Linked DNA regions of Homo sapiens: region 2 is linked to region 1. The links come from fine-mapping of genetic effects on gene expression. A gene starts in region 1. The other region holds a variant in brackets. All regions are shown on one strand. Distances are between the middles of the regions. Region 1 holds the start of NLRP6 (NLR family pyrin domain containing 6). Region 2 overlaps PSMD13 (proteasome 26S subunit, non-ATPase 13).

Region 1 (11,252 bases):
CAGGCCTCAGGCTCTGGTCTGACCCCTCAGCCTTCTTTCCTAGGTCATACTTCCGTCTCTGCCCAGGGCATCCTGCTCTCAGCCCGCTCCGTGGGAAGAGCTGGGGGTGTGGCCACTCACGTGAGGCTGCTCAGATGGCACAGTGGGTCAGTCATTGCCTGAAAGAGTGGATGAAGAAGGGAGGCTGGCAGTTGTTTTGTGGTGCCTTGAGAACTGCTGGGAGAGAGAGGAAGGTGAAGCCCACCCTGCTCCTCACAGTGCCTGCCGGAAAGGACTCCTGTCTATCTGTAGTCCTGGGGTCTCAGAGCTGCCCCTCCTCCTCACCTCCTTGCTGAGCCACCCCCTTCACACTCCCCCAACCAAACCCAGAGCAAAACCACTCATCTGTGGCCCAGGCATCATCCCACTGGGGTGTCTGAGTGAGGTCAGTGGGACGGTATCACCCACATCCTCTACATGGGTCTTTGGGTCCCCAGGCCCAGCCCCTGCCAACACCGTGACATTCATCCTCTCAACAGATGCCAAGCCCCTGGGCAGGGGCTGAATTGGAGCTATATTCAAAGGAACTCTGGCAAAAGCCTTGCCCTGGAGGAGCCGAGGGTCTGGTGGAGGTGTGGGGCAGATGTCACAGCAGGGTGGTCGAAAGGGTACTTCTGGAGCCAGTTGGGTCCCCAGCCAGCTGGGGGAGCCAGGGCAGACTTGCAGGACAGGCAGCAAACAGAATATTCTAGGTGGAGGGAAGGGCAAGTGCAGAGGCTCTGGACAGAGGGCATCGTGTGTTCCAGAGCTTATTGTCAGAAAGTAAAATGGGAAGAAGGGCTGGGCCAGAGCTGTAGGGCCATACTAGGAAGTTTTCATAGGTTGTGGGTGGCTGACGGTGGGCATGGTGAGGACACCCTGGGGAAGAAGATAGGAATTCAGTGGTTGCCTTGCAAGGAGGTGGTCAAAGCCTCCCCATCTGGGGAGCCAGGGTCTGGTCTGGAGGTGCGCCCCATGCCAGATGGACACTGAGGTGCACAGGTTTGCACCGGCACACACACCTCACACACAAGAGAGTATCTCTGCCCTGGAGACGCACCTGCCGCCACCCAGGCTGGCCTGGAGCCGCTTCCCCAGGCTCTTCTTCTTCTTCTCCTGCGCAGCAACCAATCTGCAGCTGATCAGCCGCAGTGCCTGTCCAGCAGGGCAGCACCTCACGCAGTAGCTCAGAACAGCCACGTCCATGCGGCAGAAGCGCACTCGCTGCAGCGCCAGCTCCGGGAACCGGCACAGGGCTTGGCGCACAAACGCGTCCTCCTGCGTCTCGTACAGGCAGTACAGCAACTCCAGTGGGTAGTTGGGCTCCTCTCCCTCCTCCTCCTCCTCTGGCTCTTCGGTGTCCTCGAGCCCTTTGGCCCCCTCGGTCACCTCTGGTGCCACTCCGGGGCAGCCCTGTCCCTGTCCCTGCACCCACCGCAGGGCCTCCTGCTTCACACGCTCTGAAACCATGCAGCCGAAGTGGCGCTCGATGTCGCGCATCCGCTCCGCGCTCAGCAGTCCGAAGAGGAAGCGCGTGGTGAGCACCAAGTGGCTGTGCGGCTGGGCGTCCCCACGCAGGAGTGTCCCAACGCCGCCAGCCGCGGTCCTGGGCACCCCGCCGTCCTCCAGCAGGTAGGACAGTGCCGCGAGGAACTCCTGGAAGCTCTGGTCGATGAACTGGTAGGTGACCTCTGTCTCCAGCACGCCCGGCAGCTCCTTTTTGCTGAGAAACAGCGTCTGCACTTTGGAGCCACGAAGCTCCAGTTGCTCCAGTTCCTTCTCGGCAAACTGCGCCCTGCGTCCGAGGACGCCCTCGCGGGCCAGGCGGCACAGATTGCGCAGGTCGCCCTGCAACCGGGGCCCGTCGGCTACCGGAGCCGAGCTCAGAACGCTGGTGATGAAAAGCAGGTACACTGACGTGGTGGTCTTGGACGTGCGCGACAGGTCCCGACCGAGCTCCAGCTGCTGGCGCAGCACGGTGCACACGATCCAGCACACGAAGGGCACGAAGCACAGCGCGAACAGCGTCTCGTTCTCCTTCACGAAGCGGTAGGCGCGCTCGGCCCTCCTCTCATCCCGGAAATACTTGTAGAAATACTTCTTCTTGTCCTTGTCGGAGAAGCCGCGCACCTCGGCGCACTGCGGGGAACACAGGCGGCCCTGCAGCCTCCCGGGGGCGGCGGCGCGCGTGGTCACCAGCAGGAGGGCCGTGGGCAGCAGCGCCTTGCTCAGCAGCCCGCCTAGCACCCGCGCGCCGCTCGCCGCCTCGAAGGGGTCTGTGCAGGGCGCGGCCTCGGGGCCCCCCAGCGCCGGCAGCTCGTCCGCGCCGTCCAGGATGAAGAGCAGCCGCTGCGGCTGGGCCAGCATCTGCGGCACCGGCGCGCCGCGGTCGGGGCACTGGTCCAGGATCAGGTCAGCCAGGCTGCGCGTGCCCGGCCTCTCCAGCAGCTCGCCGCAGGGCATGAAGAAGGCGAAGTCCACCTGGCCCTGGTACAGCTTGCCCGCCGCCCAGTCGTACAGGATCTTTTTGGCCGCCATGGTCTTGCCGATGCCCGCCGGGCCCTGCAGCACCACGGTCAGCGGCCGCCGGCCCTCCTCGTCGCGGCGGAAGAGGCGGTTGAAAGTGTGCGTGTCCGAGCGCCGCGCGCGCCCCGGCTCAGGCTCTTCCGCGGGCCCCATCGCCTCCTCCGGGGCGGCGCTCTCGGGCGCGATGAGCAGCTTGGTGAAGCGCTTGGTGATCTTCACGGAGCGGGCGTTCCTCTCCTTCACCCGAGCGTGCAGCTGCAGCACGTGCTCCCGGTACTTCTTCTTGTACTCTGGGCGCAGCGGGAGACAGCGCGGGGACAAGGGTCGGAGGTGGGGCAGGCTGCGCCCTCCGGGAGCCCACGCCCTCCCCGGCCCTGCTCAGGCCTCAGTTTCCTCTACGGGACCACAGCCCACGCCCCTGGCGGCCCTCCCACCCCGGTCCTCCCCGGGACCCTCCAAGTGGGGTTGGGGACACTCGTGCCCCCCCAGCGAGAGACCCACCGGACACGGAGAGCAGCGTCCCGGAGCCGAGCCCGAGCCCTGGAAGGGAAACTGGGGTGAGGTTCCGCCGAGGGCGGGAACAGGGGAAGGCGCCACGGGGGTCCGAGTCACCCTGAGGAGCACGCAGGGTCCTACCCCTGGGGCCCGCGAATTTGTGGATAAAACGCGCGGGGGCCGGGGACCGCGCCGGGGCTTCTCCGGGAAGCGGGAAGGAGGGCAGCCCAGCCTCTGCCCAGACAGGAGGGACCTCCCGCGCAGAACTCACGCTGCAGCCGCCGCTCCTGGAGCTGCGCCGCCACGTCGCGCGCGTCCGCCCTCTTGAGGGTCTTGCGGGCCACCTCCAGGGCAGGCTCCGGGCCGTAGAACTGGGCCAGCTGCTCCGCGAGGTCCACGGCGTCCGCGCGCTCCAGCCGCCCCCACGGGATGCTGCGTCCGTCCGGGCCCACGTCGCGCAGCTTGTGGCGGAAGCGCTTCAGCTGCTCTTGGCTCAGTTCCTCCAGCGCAGCCAGGAGCAGCTCGCGGGCCACCGCGAGGCGCGGCCCCGTGCTGGAGGCGGGCGGGCGCGGGTCATCGGGGAGCGGCCCTCGGGTGACCCCCGCCCGCCCCCGACTCTGGCGCCGGAGAACCCACCGCGGGCAGGGCCTCAGGGAGTCCCGGGCCAAGCATCGTCTGGATCCATGGGGTGGCGGGAGGGGGCAACGGGGAGTGACCCCAGACTTTTCCCTCCCCCGTCCCCGGACCCGGGTCGGGGCGTCTTGGTGTTCTTCGCCCTCTGAGGGTGAAGTGGGCACTGGCCGCCGCTGATCTGAGCTCTGGGGGGCACCTTCCTCCCCTGCACCTCCCTTTCTGCTTCTGTCCTTCCACACCCCAGGACAGGTCACATGCCCCGAGGGAGGTATTTCCAAGGAACCCTGAGCTCTCTTTCCTCGCTTTCCTTCTTTTCCCTCTCTTCCCGATCCCGGAGCAGAACTGGCCTCTTTGGCAGCAGACACTGCCAGGCCCAGGCTGTATTCCTGGGCCCCCACCCCTGCCACACTTTGGTGGGGCCCAGCTTGGGGCCTTGCACCAGGGCCTGAATCTGAGCCCCTGGTGGGGAACAGACTCCACAAATGCCCTCTGTGGGGAGGCAGTGCTTGGCTCCTGAGCCTGGGAGTGAGGGTGGGGGAAGGATGTGGACAAGGGTGGAGAGCCTGAGGAAGTCAGCGGGTGAGGTGGAGGCCCCAGAGGGCTGAGACCAGCCGGTTCCCAGTGACCACCCTGGGGCCAGCACTCACCTGGAGCAGGGGGCCTCTGGCTGGTCCATGGGGTCTCTTCCTCCCTGGGTCTAGCACTCCGGGGCAGAGGTGGGGATCAGAGAGGTGATTCCTTCACAGGCTGAGCTGGAGCCAAGTCTTAGAGGTTGTCCAGCCCGGTCCATTCCCCGGGTCCACACACCGCAGCTCAGCTGGCACGAGATGCTGTTGGGCACCGTGGCACACGCAGAGCATTGCCCTTTAAGGGCTCCGTTTGGTGACCTTTGATTTTCTTACTCCTTTATCCCATTAATGTTCCCCAAGAACCCCTGGGTGTGGCATCGGGGCATGGCTGTGAGCAGGCAGCTTCAGAGCAAGGTGGGTTGTGTGAAGGAGGTGGCTGGCTCAGAGCCAGGCCTTCAGCTGAGGCCTGGGGAGAGGTTAGACTCTGAAGGCAGGGGTGAGGAAAGACTTCCAGGTAGAGGGAACAGGGGGGACAGCCAGCAGCACGCACCATATATGGGAGGGAAGGCAGTCTCCAGGGAGACGCCGGGCAGGGGTCTGCACTGCAGCCTCCCCACCCGACCTGAACAGCTGGCGGGCAGAGGCTGGACGTCAGGGGTGTTCGAGACCCCTGGGACCAAATGTGAGAGTGTGTGGAACGGGGGGGTTAATATGTGGAAATGAGAGGTGCTGGGTAAAATAAGGCTGAGACCTACTGGGCTGCATTCCCAGGAGGGTAGACATTCTAAGTCACAGGATGAGACAGGAGGTTGACACAAGATACAGGTCATAAAGGCCTTGCTGATAATGGTGTAAAGAAGCTGGCCCAAAACCACCAGAACCAAGATGGCAATGAGAGTGACCTCTGGTCATCCTCACAGCTCATTACTCTAGTTACAGTACATTAGCACACTAAAAGACACTCCCACCAACACGATGACAGTTTATAAATGCCATGGCAAAGTCAGGAAGTTACCCTATATGGTCTAAAAGGGGAGGAACCCTCAGTTCTGAGAATTGCCCACCACTTTCCTGGAAAACTCATGAATAATCCACTCCTCGTTTAGCATATAATCAAGAAATAACCATAAAAATGGGCAACCAGCAGCCTTTGGGGCTGCTCTGCCTATAGAATAGCCATTCTTTTATTCCTTTACTTTCTCAATAAACTTGCTCTCACTTTACTCTTTTTTTTTTTTTTTTTTTTTTCATGGAGTCTCGTTCTGTCGCCAGGCGGAGTGCAGTGGCACGATCTCGGCTCACTTCAAACTCCGCCTCCTGGGTTCAAGCAATTCTCCTGCCTCAGCCTCCTGAGTAGCTGGAATTACAGGCATGCACCACCATGCCTGGCTAATTTTTGTATTTTTAGTAGAGACGGGGTTTCACCATGTTGGTCAGGCTGGCCTTGAACTCTTGACCTTGTGATCTGCCTGCCTTGGACCTCCCAAAGTGCTGGGATTACTGGTGTGAGCGACCATGCCTGGCACTTTACTCTTTATGGATTTGACTCAAATTCTTTCTTGCATGAGATCCAAGAACCATGATGTCTGGATCAAGACCTCTTTCTGATAACAGTTTGGCTGTGTGTCCCCACCCAAATCTCATGTTGAATTGTAATTCCCAATGTTGGGGGAGAGACCTGGTGGCAGGTGATTGGATCATGAAGGTGGATTTCGTCCTTGCTGTTCTTGTAATAGTGAGTAAGTTCTCATGAGATCTGGTTGTTTGAAAGTGTGTAGCATGTCCCACTTTGCTCTCTCTGTCCTTTTGGCCACATGAATATTTGCCTGCTTCCCCTTTGCTTTCTGCCATGATTGTAAGTTTCCTGAGGCCTCCCCAGAAGCAAAAGTCTGTACAGCCCACAGAACCAGGAGCTAGTTAAACCTCTTTTCTTTATAAATTACCCTGTCTCAGGTATGTCTTTACAGCAATGTGAGAATAGACTAAGACAAATTATAACAAGTAAAGAGATTGAATTACTAATTACAGGGAAAAAAAACTTTCCCACAAAGAAAAGCTCTCAAGGGAATGCTTCCCAACTCATTCTCTGAGGCCTGTGACACTGATACCAAAACCAGGCAAACTCATCAGAAGAAAACTGTAAACCAATATCCTTCATGAATACAGGCATGAAAAATCCTTAACAAACTACTTCAGAAACAGAATCTATTAGCATATAAAAACAATTACAAACCATGACTAAGTGTGTTTTCTCTAAGGAGTGCAAGGTTGGTTTAACATCCAAAAATCAATTAATGTAACATATCATAGTAATACTTAAGAGGACAAAAACTGCTTGATCATCTCAATAGAGACAGAAAGAATAGTCTACATTTTCCAACACCTCTTCATGGTTAAAAACACTAAGCAAACTGGGAAGAATGGAAGGAGCTTCCCAATCAGAAAATCCCCCAATATTTGGAATAAACAATACACTTGCAAATAACACATGGGTCAAAAAACAAGTCAGAGGAATTAAAAATACGTTTAACCAAACTGGGCATAGTCCTAGCTACAGGACAGGCTTAAGTGGGAGGATTGCTAGAGTTCAAGACCATCTTTGGCAGGGTAATAAGACTTCTGTCTTTTAAAAGATAAAAAAGGCCAGGAAAGAGAGTAGGGGAACGGAGATGAAGGAGAAAATAATATATGTGTAAATATATTTATTAGCACTGAGCTATACACTTAAAATGGTAAAGATGACAAATAAAATTTTGTATTTTTATATAAATTAATATTTTTATTAAAAAATAGAGACTGAGTCTTGCTATATTGCCCAGGCTGTTCTCAAACTTTTGGCCTCCAGCCACTGCCCTCACACCTGTAATCCAAGCACTTTAGGAGGCCGAGGCAGGAGGATTGCTTGAGCTCAGGAGTTCAAGCTACAGTGAGCTATGATAATGCCACTGCACTCCAACCCAGGCAACAGAGCCAGATCCTGACTCAAAACAAAAACAAAAACAAGACATTGAATCTACAATTAATGACCTTCCAAACCAAAAAGCATTAGACCCAGATGGTTTTACTGGTGAATTATATTGAAAACATAATGAAGAAATAACAATTTCCTATAATCTTTTCCAGAAAATAGAGGCAGTAGGAACACTTCCTAACTCATTCAATGAAGGTTGTAATACCTTAATACCAAAACTAGACAAAGACATTACAAGCAAGGAAAAATAACACACTAATATTTCTCAGGAATGTAGATATAAAAATCCTCTACAAAAAGTCAGCAACCCAAACCTAACATGTGTAAAATGAATGATACATCACAACCAAGTGGGATTTACTCCAGACATTCAAGGCTGGTTTAACACTCACATGTAAATTAATGTAATTCATCACATCAATGGGCTAAAGAAGAAAAAACATGATCATATCAATAGATAAAGGAAAAGCATTTGACAAAACCCAACACCTATTTATGATAACAACTCTAGCAAGGCAGGAATAGAGTGGAACTTCCTCAACTTGATAGAGAACATCTACAAAAAAACCTACAGCTAATATCATACTTAATGTTGAGAAGCTGAATGCTTTCTCTTTAAGACTGGGAACAGGACAAGGGTGCCCCCTCTCACCACTCCTATTCAGCATTGTGCTGGAAGTCTTAGCCTTGGCAATAAGACCAGAAAAGGAGAAGAGGGTATGCAAATTGGGAAGGAAGAAATGAACTATTTTTGCTTGCACAGGACATGATTGTCTGTGTAGAAAATTCCAAAGAACAAAACATTCCTGGAACTAATAAGTGATTATAGCAAGGTTGCAGGTAGCAGGGGTAATAAGCAAAAGTCACTTGCTTGCCTAGCAACGAACAGCTGGAATTTGAAAATTAAAACATAATTATCATTTATATTAGCACCAAAAACCTGACTTAGGTATAAATCTCACAAAATATGTACATGATAAACTGCAAATCTCTGATGAAAGAAATCAAAGCTCTAAATAAATATTCCATGTTCATGGATGGGAAGACTCAATATTATTAGGATGCCAATTCTTCCCAAATCGATCTACAGATTCAATGTAATAAAAATCAAAACCATAGCAAATTATTTTGTAGATATCAAAAAACTGATTGTATGGTGGCTCACATTTGTAATCTCAGCACTTTGGGAGGCTGAGGTAGGAGGATGGTTTGAGGCCAAGAATTTGAGACCAGACTGGACAATATAATGAGACCCCATCTCTACAAAAATATAAAAATTTAACTGGGTGTGCCAGTGCATGCCTGTAACCCCAGCTACTTGGGAGGCTGAGGTGGGAGAATTGCTTGAGCCCTAGAGATTGAGGCTGTTGTAGGCCAAGGTCATGCTATTGCACTCCAGCCTGGGTGACAGCAAGACCCTTCCTCTAAAAACAAAACAAAACAAACAGAACAAAACAAAAAAAAACCTGTAAGATTTATATGGAAATGCAAAAGACTCAGAATAACCAACATGATACTGAAGAAGAACAAAGTCAGAGGACTGACGCTGCTCGGTTCAAGACTTACTGTAAAGCTACAGCAATCAGCATAGTGATATTGGCAAAAGACTGTACAGATAAATCAGTGGAACAGAATACAGAGCCCAGAATTGGCACACACAAATATAGTCAAGTGATCTGTGAAAAAGGAGCAAAGCCAATTCAAAGGAAAAGGATAGTCTTTTCAACAAATGATGCTGGAACAATTGGATAGTCTCATGAAAAACAAATAAAAAAATCTAAACACAGACTTTAAATGTTTCACAAAATTTAACTCAAATTATATCATAGACCCAAATGTTAAGTGCAAAACAACAAAACTTTTAGAAGATAGACCAAAGCATGGTGCATAAAAGAAACAATTGATAAGTGGGCTTCATTAAAATGTACAACTTCTGCCCTGGAATAGATAGTATTAAGAGAATGAGGAGACAAGCCACACACTGGGATAAAATATTTGCAAAACACATATTTGATAAAGGACTGTTATCCAAAATATACAAAGAATTATCTTTCTTTCTTTTTTCTTTGTTTTTTTCTTTTCTTTCTTTCTTTTTTTTTTTTTTAGAGACAAGGTCTTACTCTGTCGCCCAGGCTAGAGTGCAGTGGTGCGATCTTAGCTCACTGCAACCTCAAACTCCTGGGCTCAAGGGATCCTTCCCACTCAGCCTTCCAAGTAGCTAGAACTATAGGCATGCATCAACACATCTGGTTAATTTTTATTTATTTATTTAGAGACAAGGTCTCCCTATGTTGCCCAGGCTAGGGATGCTGTCCTTCTGCTCAATGGTGGGATGATATTTCAGTTCGAGGTGCAACAGTTACCAAATTTAGGTCCAAAATCCCTGAGAATCCTCAATGGAACCCATATAAATCTAAACAGCCTCATGACCCAGGGGCCACAGCTGCTTCCAGAAATCTTCAGTTCGGTTCAAAAGACAATGGCGATCTGTGTTCCGCTTCCGCAAAGGGACAGTACCAGGGTCTACCCATGTCACAGAGCACAGTTTTCCTTGAAGAAACCCTTTAGGCTTGTACCCTTCTGCACAGAGTCCTACACTCCGGACAGCAGCTGAAAATTCCCCCTCTGTTCCTGTCACTCATCGACAGCCCTTTGGTACTACACTGTCATCCGCTTCCTCTGTCCTTCTCCCCTGGGCCCCCAACATTCTGACCCCCCACACCTCTCTCCTCGATGCTAGCCCTCTCTCTCCTCTGCGCTCCTCTTGGGGGCGGCGCCGAAGACCCCGCCTCATCAACTCATCAACCTCTCCTTCTGGGACGATTCACCCCAGAGCCTTTGGGGGTCCCAAATGGAACCAAAAGTGGCAGGACCTGCTTGCTGCCAACCCGAGGTCCATCTTCCCCTCTTCTTACCGACAGAACCCTGTGTGTGTGGATCAGCAAAGTGCTTCCCCATAAAACTTTGCAGAAGGTGACCTTGGGACACAGTCTGGGCAATGAGGGGAAAGGGAGCCTGCTGGGTGGGCTTGGGTGGTGGGTGGAGCTGCCACGGCCGTTGGCTCTTGGCCTCCCTCCGTCTTTGTCCTCTTGGACATGGACACAAAACTTGGAGGTCCACGAGCAATGCCCAGGCCCAGGAGCCAGAGGAGATGACTCTGGCAGCTGGGAGGCCACCTCGGGGCTTTGTTCTGGGAGAACGACTCTCCTGTGGGTTTCGGTTTCATGCGGCCCAAGGCCTTCGTAACTCGTACACCTTGGACCTGTCTCCAAGGCCGCAGGTGGAAGGGCAACGTGCACTTGGCCCCACTTCTGACGCCTCCTTCCACAGCAATGCTCTCTGTGGCCCAATCTTCCACGAAAGCAAACTGTCCTCCAAGGCAGGTGCTGGGCGTCCAGTGCTCCTTAAGGAAGGTCTTTCCCTTCCCCACAGAGACCCAGAGAGAAAGCGCCTCCCCCATGAAGCTGCTGGTCAAATGCTCGTTCCATTGGGCACTCACTGTACCAGGAAACCTGCTAGAGCAGCCGAAGAAAGAAAGGTTCAAACTGGTCTCAAAAGTAAGACGGCCTCAACACGGAAGGGAACCTGGACACAGCTGCAACATGGACGGCCCTGAGGACATTGAATAAGCCAGACACAGAAGGACAAATGCTGTGTGTTAGCACTTACCTGAGGCCCCTAGAGCCTCCGACTCACAGAGAGAGTAGAACAGCAGGGGCCAGGGCTGTGGGAAGGGGATGGGAAATGGGTGTTTAATGGGGAGAGAGTCTCAGTTTGGGAAGATGAGAAAGCTCTGGAGAGGGACGATGGTGATGGGTGAACGATGTGAATGTACTTCATGCACACTTAGCAATGGTTAAAATGGTATATTTTATGTTATATAAATTTTACCACAATTTAAAAAATAAGACAAAAAAAGCCAGTGTATCCATAATCTGATTAATTATTAGCTCAAGTGTTTTCCCGAGATAGGTCAGGAAATCAAAGCCTCTGCTTGTTTCTTCAGGAAGGGCCCCTGGCAGGACCTTGAGAACAGCAAT
Region 2 (11,252 bases), 20 kb after region 1:
CTTTTTAATTTGCTTTATTTGTTTAATAACTGGTATGTTTCGGACACCTTTCCATGTTGGTGTATATAAATATACTTCACTATTTTTGTCTTCATCATAGTTGCCTGTGGTTGAGGTGTACCACAAGTTATTAATCAGTGCCCTATTGATGAAAATTGGATCAGTTTCATTTCCCTCCTCTTATAAAGAGTGCTCTAGGAAACAGCCTGATGCCTGGGTTGGAGGAAGGCCTCCATGGTCAGTGCTCGAGGGAACAGCCTGATGCCTGGGTTGGAGGAAGGCTTGTCATGGCCTGATCAGGAGGTTGTGCATGTCACTCATAGCCACAGTCACATGGCCGACCCTGACAGCAGGAAAGGATAGGACATGCAGTCTAGCTATTTGTCCAGGAAGACAGGAACAGAAATTTTGGAGATCAGCTAGCAATCTCTGCTACGTTACTCATGCATATTTTCCATTGTGTGTGTGTGTGTGTGTGTTTTTTTTTTTGAGGTGGAGTTTCGCTCTTGTTGCCCAGGCTGGAGTGCAGTGGCACAATCTCTGCTCACCGCAACCTCCGCCTCCCGGGTTCAAGTGATTCTCCTGCCTCAGCCTCCCGAGTAGCTGGAATTACAGGCATGCACCTCCACGCCTGACTAATTTTTTGTATTTTTAGTAGAGATGGGGTTTCTCCATGTTGGTCAGGCTGATCTCGAACTCCGACCTCAGGTGATCTGCCTGCCTTGGCCTCTCAAAGTGCTGGGATTACAGACATGAACCACTGCACCTGGCCTCCAATGTGTTGTATTTTGCTAATTTGCATGGTACGCATGCACACACATACACACACACACCCCCACATCTGCCGTGTGGGAAACTACTTTATCAGCTAGAGTACTGTGCTTATGTGTACTTCCTTTGCTCTTAGTCTTAACAGACTTCACTCATTTCCAAAGTTACCAAGTCAGTGCCTTTCTCATCATTCCCTTCAGTGAGGTTGTTTCTGCATTTGTAACACAGTTAGATTATTTTGTCACATGCTGCATTCCATCATGGGATTCCCTGATATTCTAAATGATATTTTAACATTTGCATACATTAATGTTTACTCTTTGTACTATAAAGCTCTATGAATTTTTAATTTTTATTATTTTGAGAGAGGATCTTGCTCTGTTGTCCAGGTTGGAGTGCAGTGGCCCAATAATGTCTCACTGCAGCTTCGGCCTCCAGGCTCAAGCCATCCTCCCACCTCAGCTTCCTGAGTAGCTGGGACCACACGTGTGCACCACCATGCCTGGCTAATGTTTTTATTTTTTGTGGAGACAGGGGTCTCACTATGTTACCCAGGCTGGTCTCTAACTCCTGGGCTTAAGCAGTCCTGCCCTGGCCTCCCAAAGTGCTGGGATGACAGGCATGAGCTACTGTGCTTGGCCCTCCATGAATCTTGACAGGTGTATAGTGTCATGTAGCTACCTAGTGTCCGGCTCTTGGACTCTTTTCTTTTTTTTCTTTCTCTCTCCCTTCCTTGCTTCCTTCCTTTTCTTTTTTTTTCTTTTCTCTCTTTCTTTTTCTTTCTTTCTTTTCTTTCTCTTTTTCTTTCTTCTTTCTCTTTCTTCTTTCTTGCTTTCTTTCTCTCTTCTTGCTTTCTTTCTCTCTTCTTGTTTCTTTTTTTTTTCTTTAACATAAGTTAATGCTTTTATTTTTTATTTTTTGAGAGAGGATCTCACTGTGTCACCCAGGCTAGAGTGCACTGGCATGATTATGGCTCACTGCAGCTTTGAACTCCTGGGCTCAAGCACTCCTTCCATCTCAGCCTCCCAAGTAGCTAGGACTATAGGCGCTCTATATAGGACTAGGAGCCACCATGCCTGGCTAATTTTTAAATTTTTTGTAGAGGCAGGGTCTCAGTCTCACTATGTTGCTGAGGCAGGTCTCAGACTCCTGGCCTCAAGTGATCCACTTGCCTCAGCCTTCCAAAGTGCTGGGATTACAGGTGTGAGCCACCATGCCCAGCCCAGATCTTGGTTTCTAATACCATTCTCCAGCAGAAGGAACCAGGCCTATTGGCTTATTCTATGTTCACTTATTCCAGGACAGGGGCAGAAAATATATGAGTCTGGAGCATTTTGTGGTACCAGAAACTAAGAAAGTGTTCAAAACAAGCAAATTAAAAAGCTCCACAATTTTGAGGATATGCTAAAGGAACACAGGGCTGAAAGAAAGGAACCCAATACCCAGAGCTGGGACAATCTGAGCAACAAAATTAACCAGTGTTAATTATAACCTAAATATAAAATAAATACGCTTGAGTCCATACTGATATAAATAAATGAATCAGTAATAATAAGTGGGGAAAAGAGACAAGCCTTTAATGCAAAAGAATGACAAATAAAGCCTGTAGAGACCCCACCCCCAAAGAGGTGGAGTGTGACTGGCCATCCTTAGGTGGGGCTGTGCATAGTGACTTCCTCCCAAAGGGAACAGTATGGGAAGGGGAGTGAAAAGAGTCACTTTGCAATGAGGAAAGCTGACAGACGGTCTCACCCAGGTGGCCGAGGCCAACATCAGGAGTGAGAAGTTCTTGGTATGATGTGATGAGAAGGGCGCTGTCCCTCTGTGGTCCTCCTTCTCAAGCCCCAGAGCCCTAATCTAATCATGAGAAAAGCAGCAGCCGAACCTCAATAGAAGGGTGGGGTGTTCTACAATAAACCTGACCAGTTACCTTCAAGGTCACCGAAAAACAAGGAGAATGAGGAGCCGCCCCAGCAGACAGGAGCTCAGGAGATGTGGAGACTGAATGTAAAATGGTGTTGATCCTGGAACAGGAAATGAGGGAAAGTGTGAGGAAATCCGAATCGAGTATGGACTTCATGAAGTTCGTAACTAATGTATCAATATTGGTTCATTAATTGTGACAAATGTATTATACATATTGTATTAGCATTCTCCAGAGAAACAGAACCAACAGGATGTGTGTGCGTGCGTGTGTGTGTGTGCGCGTGCGTGTGTGTGTGTACCCACCCATCCCCAACACACATATATGTGGAGAGAGATCTATTTTGAGGAACTGTTTATGTGATTGTAGAGGCTTGGTAAGCCCGGAATCTGATAGAGGAGCCCAGGTGGCTGGAGGCCCCGAGGAAAGCTGATGCTGTGGCGGAGCCCGAGGACCATCTGGAGGTGGAATTCCTTCTTCCTCCTCAGGAGAGGTCCGTCTTTGTTCTCCTAAGATCTTCAACTGATTGGATGAAGCCCACCACATCATGGAGGGTCTTCTGCGTTTCTCAAAGTTCACCAATTTAAAGGTTAGTATTTCATCCAAAAAACACCTTTGCAGAAATATCCAGAATAATGTTTGACCAAACGTGGGCACCACGGCCCAGTCAAGCTGACACACAGCACCATCGAAACCGTCAGCGCTGGGCAATGCTGAGACTGTCGACTGACACCAGAGTCCCGAACGGGCAGGTTCCATGTGAAGAGGGCTTGGGTCAAAGCTGAGTTCCCGACGAGGGGTGTGCACAGGGGTGGGGTGGAGGGCAGAGGGCCACACCCTCCACAGGATCTCTTCCCATGAATCCCAAAGTTTCAGTAAATTCTACTAAATCTACAAGGTACTTAGTGGAAATGTGTTTTTTTAGATGAAAGGAAGGGGCCAAGTCTTAGTATCTGGCTTAATTTTTTGGAAGTGGTCATTCAGTTTTGAAGAAAATAGTGTGAAGTATCAAAGTTTTTATGTGACATGAAGATGGTATTCAAGCTTTTTTTTTTTTTTGAGATGGAGTCTTGCTCTGTCGCACAGGCTGGAGTGCAATGGCACAATCTCAGCTCACTGCAATCTCCGCCTCCCGGGTTCAAGCAATTCTCCTGTCTCAGCCTCCCGAGTAGCTAGGACTACAGGCGTTTGCCACCATGCCCAGCAAATTTTTGTATTTTTAGTAGAGACGGGGTTTTGCCACGTTGTCCAGGATGGTCTTGAACTCCTGACCTCAGGTGATCCACCTACCTTGGCCTCCCAAAGTGCTGAGATTACAGGTGTGAGCCACCGCGACCGGCTGGTTCTCAAACTTGGCTGTGTATCATACTCACCTGGGGGGTTGTTGTAACAGATTATAGGCCCACTCCACTTTCCGATTCGTTTCCAACAAGCCAGGTGATGCTGATGCTGTTGGTCCAGGAACCACACTTTAAGAACCACTATTTTACGTGAAGAAATAGGTTTCTAATGCAATAAAAAAGGAGCATGCAAATGTTTTCATGCATGTGTGCTCTTTCTGGGTCTCTGATTCGAAGAGCTCCATGGAAGAGGGCTGTGCCCCCGTCTGTGCCTCCTCCAGCAGCTTCTGTGGTTCCAAGTCTGGACACAGGGTGGTGCCATGTGCCCACAGGTGTCCACCGGACTTTCCAGGTGGTCCTGCAGGCCGAGGTGGCCTTGCAGCTTTGTGAGAGAGGGTGTGCGTGGTGGCTGGTCTCCCTCCCGCCTCCCAGGTGCGTTAGGGGTATGTCCAGGGCAAGCTTGATAGGTATGTGCTGAGTGGCTGAAGAAGGTGAGGGTGAAGATTCAGGTAACAGGACTACTTTTGTCCATCCACGGCCTTGAGCGCACCTTCCGATGCTGCCCCTGTCCAGGATGAGCCAGGATGGGCCAGGACGGGCCAGGATGAGCCAAGATGAGCCAGGATGGGCCAGGACGAGCCAGGATGAGCCAGGACGGGCCAGGATGAGCCAAGATGAGCCAGGATGGGCCAGGATGAGCCAGGATGGGCCAGGATGGGCCAGGATGGGCCAGGATGAGCCAAGATGAGCCAGGATGAGCCAGGATGGGCCAGGATGAGTCTGGAACCCTGAGCCTGCAACCCTGAATGCTCTTCAAGTCTCAGTTTCCCCAGCTGTTACGTGGGGCCTTAATCTCCATCCTGCAGCCCCACTTGGCCACCTTCTCTTTCTCTCTGGGTCACATCATTTTCTTTCTATTAAAGGGCAGACCTGGGGGTGGCGGGGAAGAGGGTCCAGGCCTCAGGATGATGACAGGAGAGGCCATCTGGGGCAGCCTTGCTGTGGGTGGGGGACTCAGGATCTTTAACCACAGGGTTTGGTTTGAACAAGTGGTTCAAACTGGGGACTAAAAACAAGGCTAGGATAAAGACCAAAGCTCACTTCTGCTTTTGTGGGGCCCCAGAAGTAGAAGCTGCGTGAGTGTGAAGTGAGGAGGACAGGTTTGTGCTTGGAAAGGTCAGAAAGGTCGGAAGACCGGTGAGTGGGCAGGTGGGAAGAGGTTGAAGGCTGTGGACGGCGTGGCCATCTGGGCTTGAGGGAGGCCGACAAAACCTCTCTCTCCTGGAGGGCAGTGTTTCCTCCTGGCATCGCTGCTCCCACCCCTGCCAGCTCCCTCCTCTCAGCCTTCATCGGGGGCATCACCCACCCAAGGCTGGGCTGGCTGGGGGCTTGTTTGGAAGCCTAACGTCCTGAAGCACAGTGGGCCTCTCCACTGCCCACCCACACACGCCACCTGCACCCCCCACTCCACTGAAGCCCAAAAAGGGCAGAGGTGGAGGCCTCCCTCGGGGGCAAGCCTGGGTGGTGGTGCAGCTAGTTCTTATCTGTAAAAGACAAAACACCATAGCCTGGGAGACTGATCCTTTGAACACGCACTCAGGTCCACAGCCTTATCCAGAACTGGACCCCAAAGCTATAATTAAAGGTTCAGGCGGAAGGGATTATTACAGAGGAGGGGCAGAGCCCCCCACTGCCTGAGGCTGGTATCAGGAGCCCAGCACTGCTGGAGATAACATTCAGGACACCCTTCTTCCTCTGGCCTCACAGGACTTGGCTCCTGCTTGAGAAACCAAGTCAGATGAAGACTGGCCAGGGACCCGGAAGGTGGGGTGGAAAGCCTAGGAAGTAGTCTCACATTTAGGACAAATGTGGTTTCTGGGGAAGAACAAAAGTAAAATCATGTTCCTAGTGAAATTTGCTCGTATCACCAATTTACCATTTCAAAACAAACAGATAGGGGCGTGATTGTCCATAGTGAGGGTGATGACCACAGCCAAGCCTGGAGGTACAGACAATGACCATGGATAAATCTGGGGGCCTAGGTGGGGTCAGATGTCCTACTGCTTCTACTGGCTCCTGGGCTTGGACTCAGCTGTGGCCTTTTTCATTGTCAGTGATAATACTGTGGGTCATTCTGAAGGAGAAGTGTAATCCCCACAGTTGTCTCTCATGTCTGACTTGGCTTTGTATCCTTCAAATCTAGCCCAGTGCCCAGCATACAATAGAAACTCCATCCATCCTTATAACAACTCCTCCAATCATCCATCCACCCACCCACCTACCCACCCATCCATCCACCCACCCATCCATCCATCCACCCATCCACTCATCCACCCATTGACTCATCCATCCACCCACCGACCCATGTATCCATCCATCCGTCCGTCCGTCCGTCCGTCCGTCCGTCCGTCCGTCC[GTCCGTCCA/A]TGCATCTATCCATCCACTTATCCACTCATCTATCCATCCACCCATCCACACATCCATCCATTATGGATCCCTGCATCCATCCACCCATCCACTCCTCCCACCCACCCATCTGCCCATCCATCCATCCATCCGTGCATCTGTCCGTCCACCTATTCATAAACTCATCCATCCACCCACCATCCATCCATCCATCCATCCATCCATCCATCCATCCATCCATCCATGCATCCATGCATCCATCCACTCATCTGTTGTCCATCCACTCACCCATCCACCCATCCATTCATCCATCCATATATCCATATGCCCATCTGTCCATCCATCCATGTAACATTGACTGAAAAAGTCTGCTAAACCAGACACTGCTCCAGGCTCCAAAGATTCAGTGGTGAACACAACGGAGTCTCTGCCCTCATGGGACTTACATTCCAGCTTCAAAAACAGAGAGTAAACAAGATATATCTAAGGAGATGTCATTTGAGCAAAGCCTAAATGATCTAAAGAAACAAGTAAAAACCTGAGGGAAAGGCTGTCCAGACAAAGGCGCCAGTGAAGGGTGGGAGTGCCCTGTGTCTGGGATGTGTTTGGATTATAATCCTGAAAGACACACTCCTGAGTCTTGAAATCCTGAAAGATCAAAATATCTAAAGTGTAAAATCTCTAATATTTAAAATTCCAAAAATCACAATCACAGGAATCATAGAAATTTTTAAAAAGTAGCGCCACTTAGAAAATGAATTTGAATGTATTCTCCAAGGAAAGCCATGTCCTAAAAGAAAAAAAAAACAGCTATTCATTGTGATGCAAGACTTCAGAATATAGTTAATGGGGTCGTGGAAGTTTGCCAGCTCTTACAGAATATCTCTGCATAGTTGCCCATAATCTACTGTAATATGACTTACACAGAAAATTCGACATATATGGCTTTTTCAAGTTGAATTTTCTGTATAGTTTTTTTAGCTTTTTTCATCATCATAAATTGTCAGCATTATTTTTTTACAGTTCACTATGCTCTCATTTTATCCTTGCATCATTTCAATACTGAAGATATAAATTAGAACACTTATACAGTGTTCTAATTTGTTTTAGGCATTTTTTGCAAAACTGACTCCACAGAAGTGCATTACCACAATGTTGTCTGTGTGTGTAGGTAAAAATGGGATATTTCCTCAATAAATGAAGAGATGTCCTTTTTGTACATCTGCATTTGTGAAAAATTTCTCTAGATCTTGGTTTTTTTGGTGACTGGCTATGTGGTGGTGAACTGTTGCGGTTCTAGATTGAGCCTGTTAGAAGGCGTAGGTTGTTCATCCTGGCTTTTCGGAAGACTGCAGTTATGAACCTGGGCGCACGCAATTCCCACCCGAGCGGTAGGTGTTCATGCATTTCCCCTCTCAACACATTTCTTTACGAATACAGCTCATCTGTGCATAACTGTCATTGGTATGACTGTTTACACTTGCAGAAACATGGATATTATTATTGTCTATTTTATTGTGTGAAGTGGCCTATGATGTGTTCTGTCATATGTCATGTTTTTATGTTTCTCAAATAAATCCCCTTTAAAAATGTAAATAGATGGCCAGGCGTGGTGGCTCATGCCTGTAACCCCAGCACTTTGGGAGGCTGAGGCGGGCGGATCACCTGAGGTCAGGAGTTTGAGACCAGCCTGACCAACATGGAGAAACCCCATCTCTACTAAAAATACAAAATTAGCCAGGTGTGGTGGCAGGCGCCTGTAATCCCAGCTACTCAGAGGGCTGAGGCAGAATTGTTTGAACCCAGGAGGTAGAGGTTGCAGTGAGCGGAGATGGTGCCATTGCACTCCAGCCTGGGCAACAAGAGTGAAACTCCGTCTCAAAAATAAAAAAATGAAAAAAAAGTAAATAAATATCTTTTAAATAATTTTAAAATTATTTTTTCCAGAAATATATTTTCAGAATTTTGATTTTTCGGGATTTCAGCATGCAGAATTGTGTCTCTCTGGGCTGTGATCAGCTCATGTCTGGGATGAGGCAGGAGCCTTGGTGGGGTGCAGGGAGAGCAGATGAGGGTAGGAGCAGGACCAGCAAGGCAGGCAGTGGTCAGAGCACTCAGGCCTTGGGGGTGAGTGAAGCCTGTTGGAGGATGCTGAGCAGCGGCAGCAACAAGACCTGATTGTTCTGGAAGACTGTCTGGGCTGCTGTGTGGAGGAGCGGTTATGGAGGACAGGTTTGAGGCTGGACTTAGGGAGGGTGGGGAGTCAGCGGGCTCGATGTACACATGAGTGTCTGAGGGAAATGGAGGCTCACACTAAGACATTTGGCCTGAGCAGCTGAGAGGGGCTGCGGAAGGTTGAAGGGTGCACCACAGGGCCTTGGGAACTTGACAGTGAGGTGGGTATAAAGGCTAGTGGTCAATAGATCCCAGCAATTGTGACTGACGAGGAACAGCTGGGGTGTCAGGCCATCTGGACCAGGGCCAAACGAGGTCTGGAGAGGGTGGGTGGAAAGACCGAGAGGGGTCTGGGGCCATGAGGTCAGGCGAGGCCTGGACGAGGTGGAAAAAACCAGGAGCTCAGACACCAGCAACCAAAGAGGAAAAGGCTGGAGAAGATGCCGGACAACTGTTCTTTGCCAGCCTAGCAGACTTGTGGGTGCTTTCCTCCAACAGGAGCAGGCCGTGGGGCTCTCACATTCATCAGCTTCCTGGTTCCTGGAGGCTGGGTCTCACCCGACCTGGAGAGCTGCAAGAGCTCCATGCTGTCACTGCAGGCCCAGGACTGAAAGATCACATTAAACTGTCCTTCCACCTAATGTTCACTCTGTGATTCTTTGTGTACGTGCACCTCCACTCCCAGACGGGGAACCTCAAGGTGGTTTCCTTTACATGCCCAGTCCCAGGGATGGCTCATGTCCGCACTGGGGCACACCAGGTCACAGATGCTGGTGGCTATTTGAATGATGAGTGGTGACAAGGATGTGGATGGATGCCTGTGTCGGGGCAGGTACCTGAGAGGGCTGGAGAAGGGAGTGGATACCCCTAGGTCTCTCTTGACTAACAATAAAGATAGGACCAGCGTCTTCGTTAGTCCTTGGTGCTGGATTCTGCCCGTCTACTGTATGTGCAGGGAGGAGAAGGGCCAAGGCTACCCCCACCGTGTCTTCCCAAGGTTCCAACTCATGCTTTTTAACCTCCAGGCACAGGCTTGGCCTGGAAGCTAAGCCCAAGAAAACAGAGCCACAAGAAGAACAAAGCAGAGGGGTTTATTATAGGAACATTCTCAAACCGCAACGGAAAAGATGTCCGTACAGGTGGATGGGGATGGAGATCCACCTCGGAGTACACAGACTTCAGGGGGCCTCCTGCCTGGCACGTTCTTTCTCTCCCGTATCACCTAAGACCCTGAGACCCCCACCCTCTGCAGGAGAGACCCACAAAGAAGCCTCCTCCCTGTGGCCTGGCTCCCATCAGGGACAGTCCTGTTTTTAGAGCAAGAACAGTCTGTACTTCAGACAGGATCCCAACCCCCACCCAAATTCAATGTCGACCGTCTGAGCAGCCAGCTTCATTGGCTGCAAACGCCTCTCTCAGGTGAGTCAAAGGAGACACGACGGGGAACCAGGGGGCCCTAGGTGAGGATGTCATGGGCCTGGTGCTCCACCAGCATCTCCATGCTCTTCACATCCGTGCACCAGAACTCCAGGCGGTCCTTCATTCCCTTGATCTGAAATGGAAATCCGGACACAAGGGACGTTAAGACACGCAGGAGACACAGGCCGAGCGGCCGGCACAGCACCTGATGGGGTGACTCTACATCTCCAGCTAACTCTCTAGGGCAGCTCTAGTAAAAAGGACCTCTGAGCTGGGGGAGTGGGACGGGACTTGCCGGGTTAATTCTTTTCACAGGAACGTTAGAAAAAACTTGCATGAAAGAAAGCAGACAAGGACAGAGGAAATCCACAGGATCGCATTTCCAGCAAATGTAAGAGCGACGTGAGCTCAAATCACAGAACCAGGAACGTATCTGATCAGAGCTCCTATCTTAAGATTAAAAGGCACCGTCAGCACAACCAGTGCCATTGTCATCATAAGCTTTTAAATGCAGGGTTCAAACCCTAGGCTTGCATTAAATTAGGCTCTTAGAAAAACCCAACAGCAGTATTTCCTTCTCCAAAACCTCTTGTCTAATAATGCTGTCTTCCCAAATGGCTTCCATCCAAATGAAACTAAGACGGTATAGACACAACCCCTCAAAATCCACAGAGGTGAATAATGGGTTTCAAACACATCACCTGTTGCAAATCCAACACTCGGGGCTGCACCCAGGTCATGTGGACTCGTTTGTCCACCTCGTCTATACTGCCTTTCACCAGCCCCACCGAAAGGGCCTTCATCACCAGAAGCTCCACCTGTGCAGAGAGGGAGGCGTGTGTAAGACAAGATAGCCTGACACACCCCCATGGACCCAGATGGCTTGTGAGAAGCAGATGCCGCTCCTCCCGTCATTTTTTACTGTCTAGGGAGCACAGCGCTCACACAAGAGCCTTGACTCCTCCATGTGGCAGCTTTGCTGCTCTAACACCCTGAGCCTAGGGACCGTACCTCATTCACTGTGATTTTAGCACTTTTGGCAATTTCTTCAAAAGTGAGTTGTCTGTGATTGGCAGGTCGTGTGAAAGTCATCTGGAAAAAATTTTATTAACTATTTTAAACTATTTTTCCAAATAAAAATAGAGAACTGATAAGGATGTTTTGTCAATATTGGCTCTGAAAATAGAGATCTTATTAGTACCCCACATACTAAAAAGTT

Evidence for each region. PIP is the estimated chance that this variant, and not a neighbour inherited with it, causes the effect.
Region 2: its variant is fine-mapped to the expression of NLRP6 in CD4 T cells (BLUEPRINT, PIP 0.95).

The regions. Positions count from the first base shown.
Region 1 is chr11:271,666-282,917 of GRCh38, reverse strand. NLRP6 (NLR family pyrin domain containing 6) reads right to left here and starts at 4,511. Exons shown (of 8, transcript NM_001276700.2): 1 at 4,320-4,511; 2 at 3,311-3,591; 3 at 3,046-3,084; 4 at 1,079-2,834; 5 at 121-213. The coding sequence starts at 4,348. RefSeq lists a silencer at 1,468-1,557 and enhancers at 2,511-2,580, 2,661-3,211.
Region 2 is chr11:251,419-262,670 of GRCh38, reverse strand. It overlaps PSMD13 (proteasome 26S subunit, non-ATPase 13), which reads right to left. Exons shown (of 13, transcript NM_002817.4): 11 at 11,045-11,125; 12 at 10,735-10,851; 13 at 9,687-10,166. The coding sequence ends at 10,071. It also overlaps the pseudogene COX8BP. Among named protein-coding and RNA genes, the nearest start is that of PSMD13, 20 kb to the right of the region's middle. RefSeq lists a silencer at 4,307-4,386 and an enhancer at 4,603-5,103. The variant GTCCGTCCA/A (reference allele first, on the strand shown) is at 6,452.